Regions from separate parts of the Homo sapiens genome. Here regions 2, 3, 4 and 5 are each reported to be linked to region 1. The links are microRNA targets in miRTarBase. Many come from high-throughput screens and were not tested one by one. Region 1 holds a microRNA gene; each other region holds the end of a gene's coding sequence.

Region 1 (3,151 bases):
TCTAATACCACAATAACTGAAGGCTACTTACCAACTATAATTTCTTTTCATTCTAAACTATCAAGGTAAATAAAACCCAGGTGCTCACAGACTAAAACCTTTCAGTTCTTTGAAGTGATACTTTCTAAAAGTTGACGATTCTGACAGTTATCCTTTATACTAAAAAGATTAAAGAATCAAAACAACTTAAACTCACCAAAATTAGATATTTCTACATCTATTTGAATTTGTATTCAACTCATATTTGTATTTAACCCAAAGAGAAGCATCAAAGTGCAAACTTCAGGTAAGGAACTAATAAAGAAAAAAGAATGACAAATTTTCAAATGATCACGAGTTCTTATCTGTGACCTTATAAAACACTAACAAAAATTCATAATCTTTAAAAAAGTTCAATTCACCCACACTCATCCTGGTTTTTCTCCTTGTTGTTTCAACTTCTAGAGTCAATATCAGAAATACTTATTGGTTAATTTGTTAGGTTTTGAGTAAGATATCTAGTTTGTAAAAAAAAAATTGAATTTAATTAATTACTATCTACCTGTAGGATCTAGAAGCAGACTACAAAAAAAGAAGAAATTCACTCTGAAGACTGAAGAAACACTAGGCTGATCTTAAGTTTCCGAAATACACTCTGTAACACTACACTGATTCTTTGAATCTCTTGCAAAAAGAATCAAACCAGGACAAAGTTCAACAGATAACTGGTCAAATGCTTAGGAATGTCTATGTCCACCAAGAATATGGAACCATTAATGCCATGCTTCAGGTAAACTTGTTACAAAATTTAGTCTTCGATAAATTAGTCTCTGCAAATGATTTACCATTGCTCTACATTAGTAAGCTGAATGTTTCACTAACAAATAAGAAAATAAAATATTTCATGTTTTTACAGCTAACAACTTAGTAATACCTACTCAGAGTACATACTTCTTTATGTACCCATATGAACATACAATGCTATGGAATGTAAAGAAGTATGTATTTTTGGTAGGCAATAAACCACCAAGGGAGAATTAAACTGAGCTAAAAGAAGCTCTTGCTTCTTTCTACGTGAATGACCGTCATATGGTAAATTAACCTAGTCATGAACAGATGACCTTTGGCAATACTAACACCAAAAAAAAAAGGTTATCTACTACTGATAGATAGAAACTATCCCTAAGGTTTTTATTTCATGAAGGAAAAGAAGATCCAGTGAAGTAGATTTCAATTATCATGAAACTCCTTTTAAATCATCTAAGTTTAAAACAGACATCTTACATTTTTAAATTAGGCACTCTCATTATTAAAATTTGACTGCAAAAGGGAAAATAGTATTACTAGCACAAAAGAATGAGGAATACACATGACCTATTTTCTGTCTCCACAATTTAATCTTAAGTATATCTCATTAGTAGGGCTCACTGATTTGTACAGAAAAATAAGATACTAAGAGCTGGCTTCATTCACATAATAAGCTATTTCTTCTCATTTTGATAAATGTATAATTAATATTAGAGGAATTTCTGACCAAAAGTTTTGTTGTTTTAAAAAGGCTTTCTTTTTTGACAGCTACAAACATAGTGGCCCTTGTCCTTCCTTCTCAAGTTTATCAGGGTCTTAACCCAAATCTCTACTTTAAATGTGAAGTTAAAACTTAAAATTAATTAAAATGTAAGATTTAAGCATGAAAAATGACAAAATTCTGGTCCACAGCTGTAAGTCAGCAGGGTATATTGGTAACAGACTACCAAATATTTAAAAGAAATTAATTTATCTGTATTATCTTCGAATTTGCTTTCTCCAAAGAGGGCATGTAAAATGAAAGCACTATAGTCAAGAACCAATTTATACAGATCGAAGAACTGTTTTTATTGTACTATGCAATTACAATTCAATTTCTCTAAACTTGATCAATCCATTGTTTAGAAATATCAAAATACTTTTATTTCACACAGTTTGTATATTATTTATAAAAAATTCCAAATAATGCTCTTAGCAAAATTTATAAGCAGTACCTGTTTTAAGCTACTAATGACAAAGTTAGAAAATAAGAGTAATATTCACATATTCTAACCATTTCTTACTAAAAGTATTATTTCAACTGAAATATTTACACATGTATAAAAGCATAATATTTTAAATTTTTTGTATCAGAAATTGAATGGAAATGACTAAGTTTAACTATAGTTCATTTTCTGTTTAATAAGACTAGTTAATACAAAGATGATTTTCATTTTATCAGATTATAAAGAATGAGAATGACTTACACATGGCATCATATGTGTTACTGCATGTTTACTGGAAATTATAAAAGGCACATAATTTTAAAATTCTACACTTTCAAAGAAATTAGTTCAAAGCTTAACTCACATAAGCATAGCCCTTCTGATCATCCACAAAACAGAATGGCAATGATTCATGTTCTATTTGGTAAGTTTACCTGTATAGGTCCTAAATACCAAGAACTCAAAATATATACCTCAAAAGTAGAGGTTCTTCTATAAAAATACTCAAAGCTTATTACTCTACTTGTGTTTTATAATAAACAGTTATATTGGTCATTCTATAGGTATACAAGTTGTTTAATAATCCTTCTCAAACATCCTAGCAACTAAGACTCTCTTTGCTATAATATTAAGACTATATAAATAATCCTTAGAAAATAAAATGACAGGCTATTCATTTTTAAAAGTAAAATTATATGCTGATTCTGGTGCTTGCGAGTTTAACTTATCTAAGAGTATTTTCAATCACTCTAAAATGTCACATCTATCACTTAGATCAGCTGTTCATTTTTAACTGAGTACATATTAAACTCTGGGCATCTGCTGACACTGGTATAACTCAAACATTTCAACTGTCTCCCTGACAGGGATAACAGATGCTGACATTATCAAATGCTGTACTATTTTTTTCCCATGGCCTCTCCTTGCCCCGATATGGCCAGTATATGAAACTGAACTGCCATCCAAAAACACACTTGAGCAACTGGATCTGCTAAACAGCTCCCATATAACTAGTAAAAATAGAAGCCAGTATTATTGCTATCTTCAGCACTTAAGTTTAGGCAGTTTAACACCTGTTTCACTTCTACTAGAAAAAATGATGAAAAAGAATTGTAGTTAATTTCACCAGCAGTATGATACTTACCAACCAACAGACGCAG
Region 2 (3,000 bases), not on the chromosome of region 1:
AAAATAGCCAGGCATGCCAGTGGTCCCAGCTGCTCGGGAGGCTGAGGTGGGAGGATTGTTTGAGCCCAGTGAGCTGAGATTGTGCCACTGCACTCCAAATGCCTGAACTATGGCACAGTTTAGTATATGTTGTATTAATAGTTTAGTATATGTTGTATTATTAGTATGTATCAGTATATAGGATATCTATACTATCTATAATATATAGTATATGTAATAGTGTATGTTGTATTAATAAATGAAGAACTCCAGCCCTTTAGAAAGTGTAGAACCACTTGAGAAAGATCTTACTTTTGTACGGCACTTTACAAAGAGCTGTTTATATATTGTATCCATTTAGATTATTTCTTAACTCCCAGTGCAGCTAAAAAATTATCTTCCCCATTCTGTTTTCCTACACAATTAAATAATTTTAGTTCCGTAAATTGTTCTTTTTACAACGCTTTCTTGCATTTTCTCTCTTTCCTGTGCTTTATCCAATTTTGTCTTTGGTTCATCATGCCCCTCAGGCATGGAGTTTGAAAACTAGGTAGATAGGATGTCTAAACCAAAAAAGTATACCATAGTATTGGTCTTACTCCCATACAGAGAAGCCATTCAAACTGTGGGAATGAATTTGAGTTATTAGAGAAATGATAATAGTAGTTTAAGTATGTTCATTCAGGTTTACACATATCTGTTGTTAAATTTAGGATGGCCCGTACTTTGGAACCACTAGCAAAGAAGATCTTTAAAGGAGTTTTGGTAGCCGAACTTGTAGGCGTTTTTGGAGCATATTTTTTGTTTAGCAAGATGCACACAAGCCAAGGTAATCATAATTCAGAAGTTAATGCTTTCTAAAGGGGTATAGTTTTGCTAATCCATTTTATGTGTTAAATGGCAATGGCATGTTTGGAGAAATTGGTTCTTCAGATTCAAGATATTAGACATTTTTAGGGGCAGAACAGGAATCAAAGTATTCATTATTGTGGACTAGATCACTCTCACTTCTCCCTTAAAAATGTTGTTTGTGGGCTAAGGAAAAAATTTCATACCTCCATGGATTTTACTATTGTGGAGGATATAGCAAGTGTCCTTGGTCTGGCTTAGTTTGGGAGCACAGATGGAGGAAACTTAGCCTGCCCATTATACTTCATTGTTTGGTAGACTAAGAAAGTAACTGGTATTGCTGTTTTCTGAGTAACCAGTTTTCTCAGGCTATAGTATTCTTCCTGGGCATCAACAGTGGGCACTAAGACTTTCACATGCTATGGCCGAAAGTGCTTTAACATTTTTCTTGGGGAAATTTTATATTAGAGCTCTCAACTTTTTAAATTAGGAAGTGATTTTTCCCTAAAACAGGGAATAGACCTGGCATGATAGCCATCTTTGAAACTTGCCACAGTCTTCCTCAGCATACTTGGTTGGAACGCTGTACCAAGATGCTACTGGATACTCAAAAAATCCCTTTTCTTTTAAACTCTAAGGAAGGGTATTAAAAAAACATCCCAACAGTATTTAAAAACAAATTAAAGCTTGGGATCAGTTTTAAAAAGTGTCATGGCTGGGTGTGATGGCTTGCACTTGTAATTCCAGCACTTCGGGAGGCCAAGGTGGAAGGACTGCTTGAGCTCAGTCTGGGCTAAACATAACAAGACACTGTATCTTAAGAAAAAAAAAAAAAGTGCTGGGCATGATGGTGTGCTCCTGTAGTCCCAGCTACTCGGGAGGTTGAGGTAGGAGGCTCCCCTGAGCCCCATCCCAGCTACTTGACCTTGGCTGACGTAGGAGGCTCGCTTGAGCCCAGCCCAGGGGGGTCTAGGCAGTGGTGGATTGTGACTGTGCCACTGTACTGCAGCCTGGGCAACAGGGAGAGAGATCCTGACTCAAAAAAACAAAAGGAGATCGTTCCTGGATTACCAGAAAGACCTTCAAACAAATTTCTAATCTATATGGTTCCCATCATATGGACCCTAAAGCTAGCATTAAATTGTGGCTGTGTTAATATAATGAATTTCTGTTCATATCTAATTTCAAGACATCCTTTTTTCCATCAGATTTCAGGCAAACAATGAGCAAGAAATATCCCTTCATCTTGGAAGGTATGTTTTTCCTTAAGTAAAAATAAGTATAAAACAACTTCTTCAGGTAACCTATAAATTATGTAGTAATTTCTTTACAAGGAATTTCTAACAATACTATTCACATGTATTTTAGTTCTTCTGAGACTAAATTCTCATCTATTCTAGTGAGAGGAGAATTAGGTAATGGGCTGGATTCTGAATTCTTCTAGTGGTTAAGAATGTAAACTCTGGAATCATTCATATATGAGGTGATAGAATCAAACCACAGTTTAAACCTTTGGTTTTAAAAGATCAGTTTCATCTCAGGTTTGCTAACTTCTTGGAGCTGTCTCTTTCTCTGTCAAGTAGATAAAGACTGAACAAGATGACATCATGTAGTTAGACGAAATAGTGCTCATTACAATGATCAGAGATGCCAGGACTTATATGTGAAGTCTGTAATCCTACTGTCCTCTTTTTCATTTTGTTATGTAGCAATATGGAAAAAAGAAGTTGTTTTTTTCAATACATTTAATTTTAACAATGCTTCCACATGACTTTATAAATGAGAGCTATTTTTATTTATAGTTTATTACAAATCCACTGAGAAGTCTGGAATGTATGGAATCAGAGAGCTAGATCAAAAAACATGGTTGAACAGCAAAAATTAGATGTAAGTAGAATTTTAATCTATAATTTACATTAATAACTCATTTCCTTTGTTTTTTAGTTTTTTGAGTGGTTTTAATCCTCTTCTTTTTAAAATGTTTCTTTTTCTTGATGATACTTTTTGCATCTCTGTTGTGTAGCCAGTCATCACGTTCAGCCTCCCATCTAAGCTGTTTGAGACCTTTGAGAGAAGAAGAAAAGATGAGTGTACTACCACACTGTAGACTCTTGGTGGTCCCACAGAACATGCTGCTGAGTCACAGGAACTTCTAGCCTGCCTTGGCCTGTG
Region 3 (3,000 bases), not on the chromosome of region 1:
TGGTAACTCTTAAGTGCTTTTGGTATCTCTTGAGATTCTAACTTTTAAAGAGCAACCATTAATGTGTAAAATGATTCCTATTATTCAAGGTTTTTTTTTAATGAAAATAAAATATTTGATTTTCTAGAAAATGGTTTCACTATGAAACTAAAGGTCGTTTGCTTTTGGTCTGTCTTATCACTTTAATATAATTTCAACTTTCTAAGTGGCATAGATTCATAAATCATGAGGTTTCCTTATTTCTGACACTGATTAGGCCTCATTGCCTAAGCAAGGTTCTGGCTAGGTAATCCTGACAGATCACCGATCCGATTCCAAAGTTAATTATGGTTCCAATTTATCAGCTAGCTTTATGACTTTGGGCAACTTCTCAAGGCTTTGTCTGCATCATCAGTGTTTTTCATTTGCACCACCTTCCATGTAACTCTCAGGCTTCAACCAGAGCAACTGTTTTTGGTTTAACATGCTGAACTGCTACATAATATTTTGCCTGAACAAAGGTCTTTATCACTAACAGAGAACCATTAGACTAAATTATCTTTAAGCACAGTCATTAGAATTTTGATTGTAAATGTTTTAATAGAAATACACAATCTTTCACTTTCTCAGACAGCAATAAAGGGGTTTGTAACAATCACTAAGAATACAGAATTTTGCCACGAGGATGCAGCATAATCTACTGCAAAGCTGATCTGCCCAATTACACGTAGTCAGCTGCAAGAATATCAGAAATCAATACAAACAAGTATTGACAGGTGTTACAGACATGCAAAATATCCTTCAATGCAACGAATTTTTAAGAAATCAGCTAGCCTATATTAATCAGATGTTTTAGGTCAAACCAAGTTTCCATCTTGGGCTCAGTGAAATAGTATTAACTCATTGAGTCTCCTTTCCCCCAGGAATGTTGGGAATGGCAGAACAGAAAGAGCTATCACTCCTTAAATTCTTTTATGCAAGTGTTACTCCAACACTTATTTTACTTGGTTTACTTGGAATGTATGAGAGGAAACTGATGTTTTTTACAATGGCCAACTGTATGTCTAAATTTTCAGTTCTCCTTTTTGTGAGTTTCCTGCCAGAAATCCTTGTTAAAGGATCAGCGGGTGTTCACCCCGAAGTTCTTGCTGTTTTCAGTGTCCTACTGCAGACAGGTTTAAAAAGCCAACTGAACAGCAGCAGAATGAAGTATTTTTGAGGTCTATTCAAAAATGTACAGTCCCACCACTCACTAGAACAAGTACACAAGTAAATGGACTCAGCCAGTGCAGGAGATGGAAGGCTGCCATTTTTTATGTTTGTGCACAGCCTTACAGTTTGGAGGTGTGTTTGGCCTACTCTAATATTTCTAGTTTGTCAAAGGCTGTACACTGTTACTGCCAGTTTGACCTACATACTGTGTTCCCTTTGGATCCCTGCTACCATTTGGACCTCGTGTGTGTGTGTGTGTATGTGTGTTTGTGTGTGTGTGGTTTGGTTTGGTTTGAGACAGGGTCTTGCACTGTCACCCCAGCTGCAGTGCAGTGGCACAATCTCGGCTCACTGCAGCCTTGACCTCCTGAGCTCAGGATCCTCCCATCTCAGCTTCTTGAGTAGCTGGGACAACAGGTGTGTGCCATCACACCCAGCTAATTTTTTTATTTTTTGTAGAGATAGGGGTCTCACTACGTTGCCCAAGCTGGTCTTGAACTCCTGGCTTCAAGCGATGCTCCCACCTAGGTGTCCCAAAGTGCTGGGATTACAGGTGTGAGCCACATTCCTGGCTGAGTTTGGAACTTGTAATCTCATTGTTTTCTAAATAATGTTTCATTTTTCTTCAGTGTTGAAAATAGTTGATTTACTTAAGAATGGCATGATCATGATGTTCCAAGATTCTGATTAGTTTCTTTCAAAGCATTCTGCGCCTCTTCAATGCCCACACTGCTGAGCACTATAATAATAGATGTTGTTAGGCCAAAGGATGTCAGATGTAAAGTATGTTCTCTAGCCCCACTCTTAGAAATGTTTTATCAATGACTCAGTCCACTTGATTTTCAAAAAGTCAATGCCATCCCATTAAACAAGTAACCCCTTAGGTACAGAATAATTAATTCCTGCCTGAGTCACTTTAACAGCCTTCTATAGAGTGACATAGTCTTGCTTTTTTTCACAAGCAATAGCTGAAAAGAACAAATCTCAACTGTAAGAACTGTCAGTACATTGTAGGGATAAAGCACTTTTTGAAAAAAAAATCTCTGGCATGTATTAGACAGACTGAACATGAGATAGGGTTGGGGTGGGCTGAGCCTTTTGGTGTCATTAACTGAATACACAAGAATGAACCTCTCATCAGATATCAGGAATCCATGTCATGCAAGTACTACAATAAGATAACAGTAAATTCAGGAATGTTACTGGGGAAAAGGAAGATAGCCTCACTGAGAATTTAATCATTTAACATTAAAAAAACTTTTACATTGGTTCAAGAAGGTAAAACTGTAAGAATCAGATTAGGCTCAAACTGGCAAGAAGCCATCTAAATCTTTCTTTTTAGTGGATCTTTTTCTTTTTTTGTCCATAGCGCCGTCTGCGCTGTTTATAAAGGTGACGAAAATTTATGTATAAACCTGAAAAAGAAAAGAGGTCAATTAGAAATTAGAGTCTTTGTCTATTTATAACCAGAAGCTCTTGTGGCAGGGACAGTATCTAGCTGTCGTCATATTCCACAGCAAAAAGCTTATTGCAGCGGCTCAGGAAGGAGTACAATTTAGAACAAATTAACAATACAATAGACACAAAGCAATTTTTCCCCAGTGGGTTTATTTATTTATTTATTGCGACAGGGTCTCATTCTGTCACCCAGGCTGGAGTGCAGTGGCACAATCTCAGCTCACTGCAACCTCCGCCTCCTGGGTTCAAGCAATCCTCCTGCCTCAGCCTCCTGAGTAGCTGGGATTACAGGCGTCCACCACCATGCCTGGCTAATTTTTTGTATTTTTAGTAGAGGTGGGGTTTCACCAT
Region 4 (3,000 bases), not on the chromosome of region 1:
CTCTCAGGGACTCGAGCATCTGAGGATTTTGGTATCCACGGAGGTCCTAGAGCCAATCACCTGTGAGGATACTGAGGGGCAACTGTATTTCACCTTTCCCTCAGCCTTCCAGGCCTCTCACTTTCACAAGGTGGCATCACTGAGTTTGAGGATGCAGCTCCACCTTACCTCTTCAGTGGCTCTTCTCCCACTTGCTTACAATAATTGCTGTTTGCCCGCCCCTCTGCCTTTCTCTCCCTTGCTTTTGTGTCTTTGTATTCCCGTCTTCTGGGAGAGGCTTGTTGAATGAATGGATGATAGGTACATACACGTGTTCAGGAAGGCTCCTTTTTGTCTCTTCTCCTCAGGGCCGCCCAATAACTCCAGTATACACGGTGGCTCCAAACGTTCAGAGAATTCCTACTGCCGGGATCTACGGGGCCAGTTACGTGCCATTTGCTGCTCCAGCTACAGCCACGATCGCCACACTACAGAAGAACGCGGCAGCCGCGGCCGCCATGTATGGAGGATACGCAGGCTACATACCTCAGGCCTTCCCTGCTGCTGCCATTCAGGTCCCCATCCCCGACGTCTACCAGACATACTGAGGCTGGTGACCAGCACGAAGACAGACCACACAAACACCACTGAAGGAACGCTTGACTATTTATGAAGAAGGAACATGTTGGATTCACACATGCAACCTGAAAGTGAAGAATGTTAGCAGATTTATTTCTGAATTATTTTATATACATGAAGTTTTCACTAGTTTTTTAAGACTATTTTCAACTTAGCATGCCTACGTTCATACATTTCCAAAAGACTTGCAATGGTTCGTGCCTTCATTCCATCTTTTAAAAATTTGTATGCTGTACTACATTTGTATAGAGGTTTTTGTTGTTGTTTTTTTAAGGATATATTTTCAGTATGAAGGTTATTTTCTTAACTTCTGCACTCCAGAGATTTCTATTTTGTAGTACCTTCAATAATATATCAACTATATATTAAAAAAGCACACTTGAGGAGCTAGGGAACTATTTTGAAAAATATATACAATATTTAAAGATACAAACAGTAGTGCTTAAAAATACTACATAAAGCATTATTTTAAAGGTTATACTGGAAAGTGCAATTTTAAAATGAGTAAAACCTCTGTATTTCTGCTGGCATTAAGGGTTGATGGTGTTACCATGTATCATCATGGCGGTACTATTTTTTAAAAGAAATTAAACACTGGATCTCTCCTTAAGCCAACATTGAAAAGACTTGCCGCACTTCTGAGTCCAAACACTGGAAAGCTCTCCTTTGCCACCGTTAGCCGGGGCTCATTCTCCATGTGCCTTAGCCTTAAACATGCCCCCACTCCCACATCTCTCACCCTGTCCCCTCCTCCCCAGATTCCCAATCCCACCGCAATGTTTGGCAAGCCTAGGACTGATAAGTAGCTCTGATAGAGGAGCTGGTGGCTTTTATACTTCTTCCTGGGTTTTTGTTGGGGTTTGTTGTTTCGTTGTTTTTTGTTTTTTTTTTTGTTTGGTTGGGGAAGTATTGTCTTCTACGTGTGCTATTTTCAGTAGCAGAGTAAGCACAAGGTTTTAATCGAGTTGCATAAGACACCTTTGCATAGCTATTTAATTGCCCAATGTAAAACTTTAATGCCATTTCTAATGCTTTTATTCATTTTTGAAGTATGAGTTTGTAGGGACAAAGAATGTATGTTATCGTAGACAAGACCCCCAGAGACTCTTTTCAGCAGAAAGTTATGCTTCTAGTTGCCTTACCATGTTTCTTGCAAAACTGTCCATGGTCCTCAAGGGTGTTGGAAACATTATGTTTATTAAATGGGCCTCTCTTCCTTTGCTGTGCACTTGATGGGTGAACTGGATTGGGGTGTGCACATCCAGGAGGAGGAGGAGAGACCTGTAGAAGTTTAAAGATAGTTTGTAAATATCTTCTAATGCTTGTTTTTAGTCCTTTTATGTTGGAGAAGTTCATGGTATGTAGTTTAATGCAAAATGAAACCATTTTATTTCAATGTTATTAAAAAGGTTTGTTTTATTAGGAAGTTAATGTATTGTTGCAGTGTTTTGTGCCTGTTTAAAGGCTTTTGTTTAGCAGAGTGAATGTAAAATACAGTAAAATGTTAAGATTGTCATCTACTTTTTAAAAAAAAATATCAACTTGGAATTGTTTTTTAAAGGCTCAATCAAGGAAGTGAGGTGTGCAATAAGGTAGCAAGTAAAACGCAGTTGCGTTTTTATGTCATGTTAGAGATCCATACAATTTTCCACTCACGGGATTTTTGTTGATGGCTGAATTCTTGTGGATTCATAAGAGGATCATGCCCTTAGCAAGTACTTTTGTTTTGTTTTAAATTAAGAGATTCCCAAATGCCTTTTTCCCCCTCATCTTGAAATGAGATGAGTTTTTATGTGTAAGCAATATTTATTTAACTATTCTATAAAATTATTGAGTGCCTACTGAGGCCTTTAAGCACCGCTAACATTCCTTTCCATCATTCTTTTAAATGACATAAAATAATTGTGCAATGTTCCTGATGATGTACCCCACAAGCTGCATTCAAACTCAAATCTGTGGGAATGAGTGACTCGACAAAATGTAATTCGGATCAGATCCTCATCCCCTGACTGTGTGAAAAAAGTACTCTCCTTCTAGTGAAGGATTGTCACAGAGTTTCACTGGATGAAACTATGACCCAGTATTCTTACTGTATTTTACATATGCCTGTAAATTATTTGCAAAAAAGAAGAAGAAGAGGAAGAAAGAAAAGAAAGAAAAGAAAGAAAGAAAGAAAGAAAGAAAGAAAGAAAGAAAGAAAGAAAGAAAGAAAGAAAGAAAAAGAAAGAAAGAATAAAAAAAAATGATAACATGGCAACCACCAAACTCCCTTAAAAACAAACATTGGTGACATGGCCAATTAAGTATCAGTGAGCCTCCTATCTGGGACTTATCTGTTCCTATTGTTTCAAAACCATTTCATGTACACTACTGAGGTAAGTT
Region 5 (3,000 bases), not on the chromosome of region 1:
AGAAAAGACATTGAAAAAAAATAAATTCAAAGACACCTCTGGCCCTTTGATGCCCTCTGTTAACATCTTACTCTTCCATCAAACAAGGAATATGGTTTTTAAGAATTCTTACTATTTTAAAGAAGTGGTGGAATGGCCGGGCATGGTGGCTCACATCTGTAATCCCAGCACTTTGGGAGGCTGAGGCTGGTGGGTCACCTGAGGTCAGGAGTTTGAGACCAGCCTGGCCAACATGGTGACACCCCATCTCTACTAAAAATACAAAAATTAGCTGGGCGTGGTGGTGGCGCCTGTAATCCCAGCTACTCAGGAGAATTGCTTGAACCCGGGAGATGGAGGTTGCAGGGAGCCGAGATTGCACCACTGTACTCTGGCCTGGGCGACAGAGCAAGACTCCAACTCAAAAAAAAAAAAAAAAAAAAAAAAAAGTGGGGGATTATTTTGGAAAGTTTAAATTCCTAAGGAATTTGTGAGGATTGTTTAAAAGGGCTAGTGCTATTCAAAGCTCAGTCTTGGCTGGATCTCCACGGTGTCCAAGGGTGCTGAAGGACCCCAAAAGCTCAGGAGAAATGGGGAGGGGCTAGACAAGGTGCTGTCCTGGGCTTCTTTTTCAAAATGGGCAAAAAGTATGGCTCTGAAAATTTGGAGGTTTAAAAGTTTACCATACCTAGAAATACATGGGAAAAAAGTCACTATTCATTTGTGAAATTAGGCCCCAGGCAAGCAATCAGCAGTGTGACTCTGAAAGTAACAATATCTCATCAATTTAATCTCTTCCTGCAATAGAATGACTACACTGGCAAACTGAGGTAGAGATCAAAGTAATGATCTTGATTTTAGTACAGATCCCAGTTCTTTTCTGCACGATGCATTCACCAATGGGCTGATGAAGTAAAATCTACACTGTGTAGCTCTTAGATGGGCGTGCAATTGGCTGCCAGTTTGAAATGAAACCAAGAAGGAAATTAATGGTGGGCCAGAGGGATTAGTTGTGGGAAATCCATTTCTCCCAACAACAACAACAACAACAAAAATCTTTATCAGTAACTTCAATGATAGAATAGATAAAATGCTCATAGGTCTACAGGTGATATCAGCTGCTGCTAGTAGGAGAATGGAAATCAAAGCAAATTTTCTTAAGATGGGGGAAAATGTAGCATAAATATAGGCTTAAAAAATTGCCTGTGTGCTAGGATGCCAGAGAAAGAGGGTCTCCAATTGAGAGTTCAGCTGACTATGGGAGTTACATAGAGCCCACATACAAAACCAAAACCAAAAAGGGGAAAAGGGACAAAGAAAAAGAAGTTGTGGTTGTGAGGTACACAACTGGGTGAGAACCACAAGGCCATGTTCTGCTGATGGCCCTGCATGGCTCTTACTCAGGTACCAGGGCCAGTTCAGGGTTGGCTCAAAGACAAATGGAGAGGACAGTTGGGATTTCAAATTTAGGATCATCAGGACTTTGTAGCATTTTTTTTTTTTTTAAGAGACAGGGTCTCACACTATGCTGCCCAGGCTGGACTCGAACTACTAGGCCCAAAGCCATCCTCCTGTGTAAACCACCCGAGTAGCTGGGAGTACAGGTGTGCACCACCATGCCTGGGCTTTGTAGCATGTTTAAAGGAACCTAGGTGATTTAGTCAAAAGAGAACACTGCATGAACCAAGGCCTCAGGTGCTTCTTGCTGCCTTCATTTCCACAGAGGAGAACACAGGGATTTAGAGGAGATGGAAACATTTTCTAGGCAGTTATTGAATAACGGATCTTTGGAGGAGTTCGTGGAGTAGTGTAACCAGAAAGTCTTTAAAATTAAACCCTTCTAATCGTTTGTAAGTGTAGATGGGGGGACTTGGAAATCTCCGGGGCCTAATCATGCTCGCAAAAGGAGTGACATTAATAGCTTTGGAGATGGTGTCTTCCTCTCCTTTCCCAGGTTAAGTTCAAGCAGTAACAGCAGAGGTTCTACCTCCTTCCATCGAGTCTTTAAGCTGGACCCGGGGAAATAACTGTTAGGAAAGAGGCAAGCATCCAACCCACTCGAGCTGTGGGCTGACAGTCCCACTGGGATCGTCCCATGGAGACAATTGCAAGTCTTTTGCATGAGCTAAACCCCGCTCCACATGGAACCGAAGGTGCTCATTGTCAGCTACCACGCAATGCCATTATCACCTTTCAGCCCAAGTGCCACAGACCAACACTGGCTATACTCCAATGAGGTGTGGCATTCGGGTTCTTCTGCCTTCAGGTCACAACCTTTCTGACTCAGCTGGGCTACATTAAACCTGAAGCTCTGTACAATGTGGAGAGCGGTGTTGCCTTCATTACAAGTGGTGCAGCATTGGATTTTCAAGTAAGTCTAAGTGTTTCTATTGTCCTTAAAATGACATATGTCCAGTTATTTAAAAAAATTACAAAATACAAATGCCCGTGTTAATTTAGCTAGTCTCAGACATTACATTCGACAACATAGAAAAGCCAAAAGATCTCCAGTTATAAGCACAAAACTAAGGAAAGTTATGGATCAGTGACTTTTGTCACTAATCCATTTTCTTTTTTAAGTCACCTCCCTTTATGGCCTTGCTTGGCTGGTTTTTACATTGTGCATGACTTGTCTGTTGGACCCTGGGGAGGTGGGGCAGGTCCTATGGTAGGATTTGTTTTTGGAAGAACAGCAGGTTTTGGCCTAAGGGCTGGAGGCTTCAGCTGCACGCCCATTCTGGGTGCCACCATAGGCTTGAAAGTACTCATTGTGTCACTGGAGGAGCTCGTGCTACGTCGAATCTGAGGCTCGGAGCTCCTGAGGGCAACGTTGTGCAAAGGGCTGAGAGATTCCGTGGAAGTGGCAGGGGTGGGAGAGTTTTTCACTTGCTCCAGGGTATCCAGCACCACATCAGGGGCATGCTTTGCTGTGCTCTGTCTCTCCAGTTCTCGGAGTTCATTCAAAGCTGTGTTCATCGTTTCTTCAATATCCTATTGAAGAATAATCGGAAAGAGAGAAAG

Evidence for each region. The annotated mature microRNA hsa-miR-1-3p reads UGGAAUGUAAAGAAGUAUGUAU and lies in region 1 at 964-985, shown strand. An mRNA with a match to its seed (bases 2 to 7 or 8) in the 3' UTR can be bound and repressed. Matches are read on the target gene's strand: a 7mer-m8 pairs with bases 2 to 8, a 7mer-A1 pairs with bases 2 to 7 and ends in A, and an 8mer does both.
Region 2: miRTarBase lists CEBPZ as a target of hsa-miR-1-3p. Seed matches in the 3' UTR shown: 8mer at 2,656-2,663.
Region 3: miRTarBase lists HACD3 as a target of hsa-miR-1-3p. Seed matches in the 3' UTR shown: 7mer-m8 at 2,385-2,391, 8mer at 994-1,001 and 7mer-m8 at 902-908.
Region 4: miRTarBase lists RBM47 as a target of hsa-miR-1-3p. Seed matches in the 3' UTR shown: 7mer-A1 at 823-829 and 7mer-m8 at 2,482-2,488.
Region 5: miRTarBase lists SRGAP1 as a target of hsa-miR-1-3p. Seed matches in the 3' UTR shown: 7mer-A1 at 129-135.

Annotation. Positions count from the first base shown.
Region 1 is chr18:21,826,849-21,829,999 of GRCh38, reverse strand. MIR1-2 (microRNA 1-2) reads left to right here and starts at 912; the gene lies at 912-996. The region is part of intron 12 of MIB1 (MIB E3 ubiquitin protein ligase 1); the gene reads right to left. MIR133A1HG (MIR133A1 host gene) reads left to right here. Exons shown (of 3, transcript NR_110369.1): 3 at 548-3,151.
Region 2 is chr2:37,199,012-37,202,011 of GRCh38, forward strand. CEBPZ (CCAAT enhancer binding protein zeta) reads right to left here. Exons shown (of 16, transcript NM_005760.3): 16 at 2,601-2,892. The coding sequence ends at 2,753. CEBPZOS (CEBPZ opposite strand) reads left to right here. Exons shown (of 5, transcript NM_001322374.2): 2 at 693-808; 3 at 2,037-2,081; 4 at 2,631-2,715; 5 at 2,852-3,000. The coding sequence starts at 694. The coding sequence ends at 2,713. Among named protein-coding and RNA genes, the nearest start is that of CEBPZOS, 4.0 kb to the left of the region's middle.
Region 3 is chr15:65,575,909-65,578,908 of GRCh38, reverse strand. It overlaps HACD3 (3-hydroxyacyl-CoA dehydratase 3), which reads right to left. Exons shown (of 11, transcript NM_016395.4): 11 at 560-2,606. The coding sequence ends at 2,530. It overlaps INTS14 (integrator complex subunit 14), which reads left to right. Exons shown (of 12, transcript NM_001394796.1): 12 at 1-152. Among named protein-coding and RNA genes, the nearest start is that of INTS14, 34 kb to the left of the region's middle. RefSeq lists an enhancer at 1-35.
Region 4 is chr4:40,423,491-40,426,490 of GRCh38, reverse strand. It overlaps RBM47 (RNA binding motif protein 47), which reads left to right. Exons shown (of 7, transcript NM_001098634.2): 7 at 348-3,000. The coding sequence ends at 587. RBM47-AS1 (RBM47 antisense RNA 1) reads right to left here and starts at 358. Exons shown (of 2, transcript NR_199039.1): 1 at 309-358. RefSeq lists an enhancer at 1-1,069.
Region 5 is chr12:64,142,265-64,145,264 of GRCh38, reverse strand. It overlaps SRGAP1 (SLIT-ROBO Rho GTPase activating protein 1), which reads right to left. Exons shown (of 22, transcript NM_020762.4): 22 at 1-2,970. The coding sequence ends at 2,593. Among named protein-coding and RNA genes, the nearest start is that of KICS2, 79 kb to the left of the region's middle.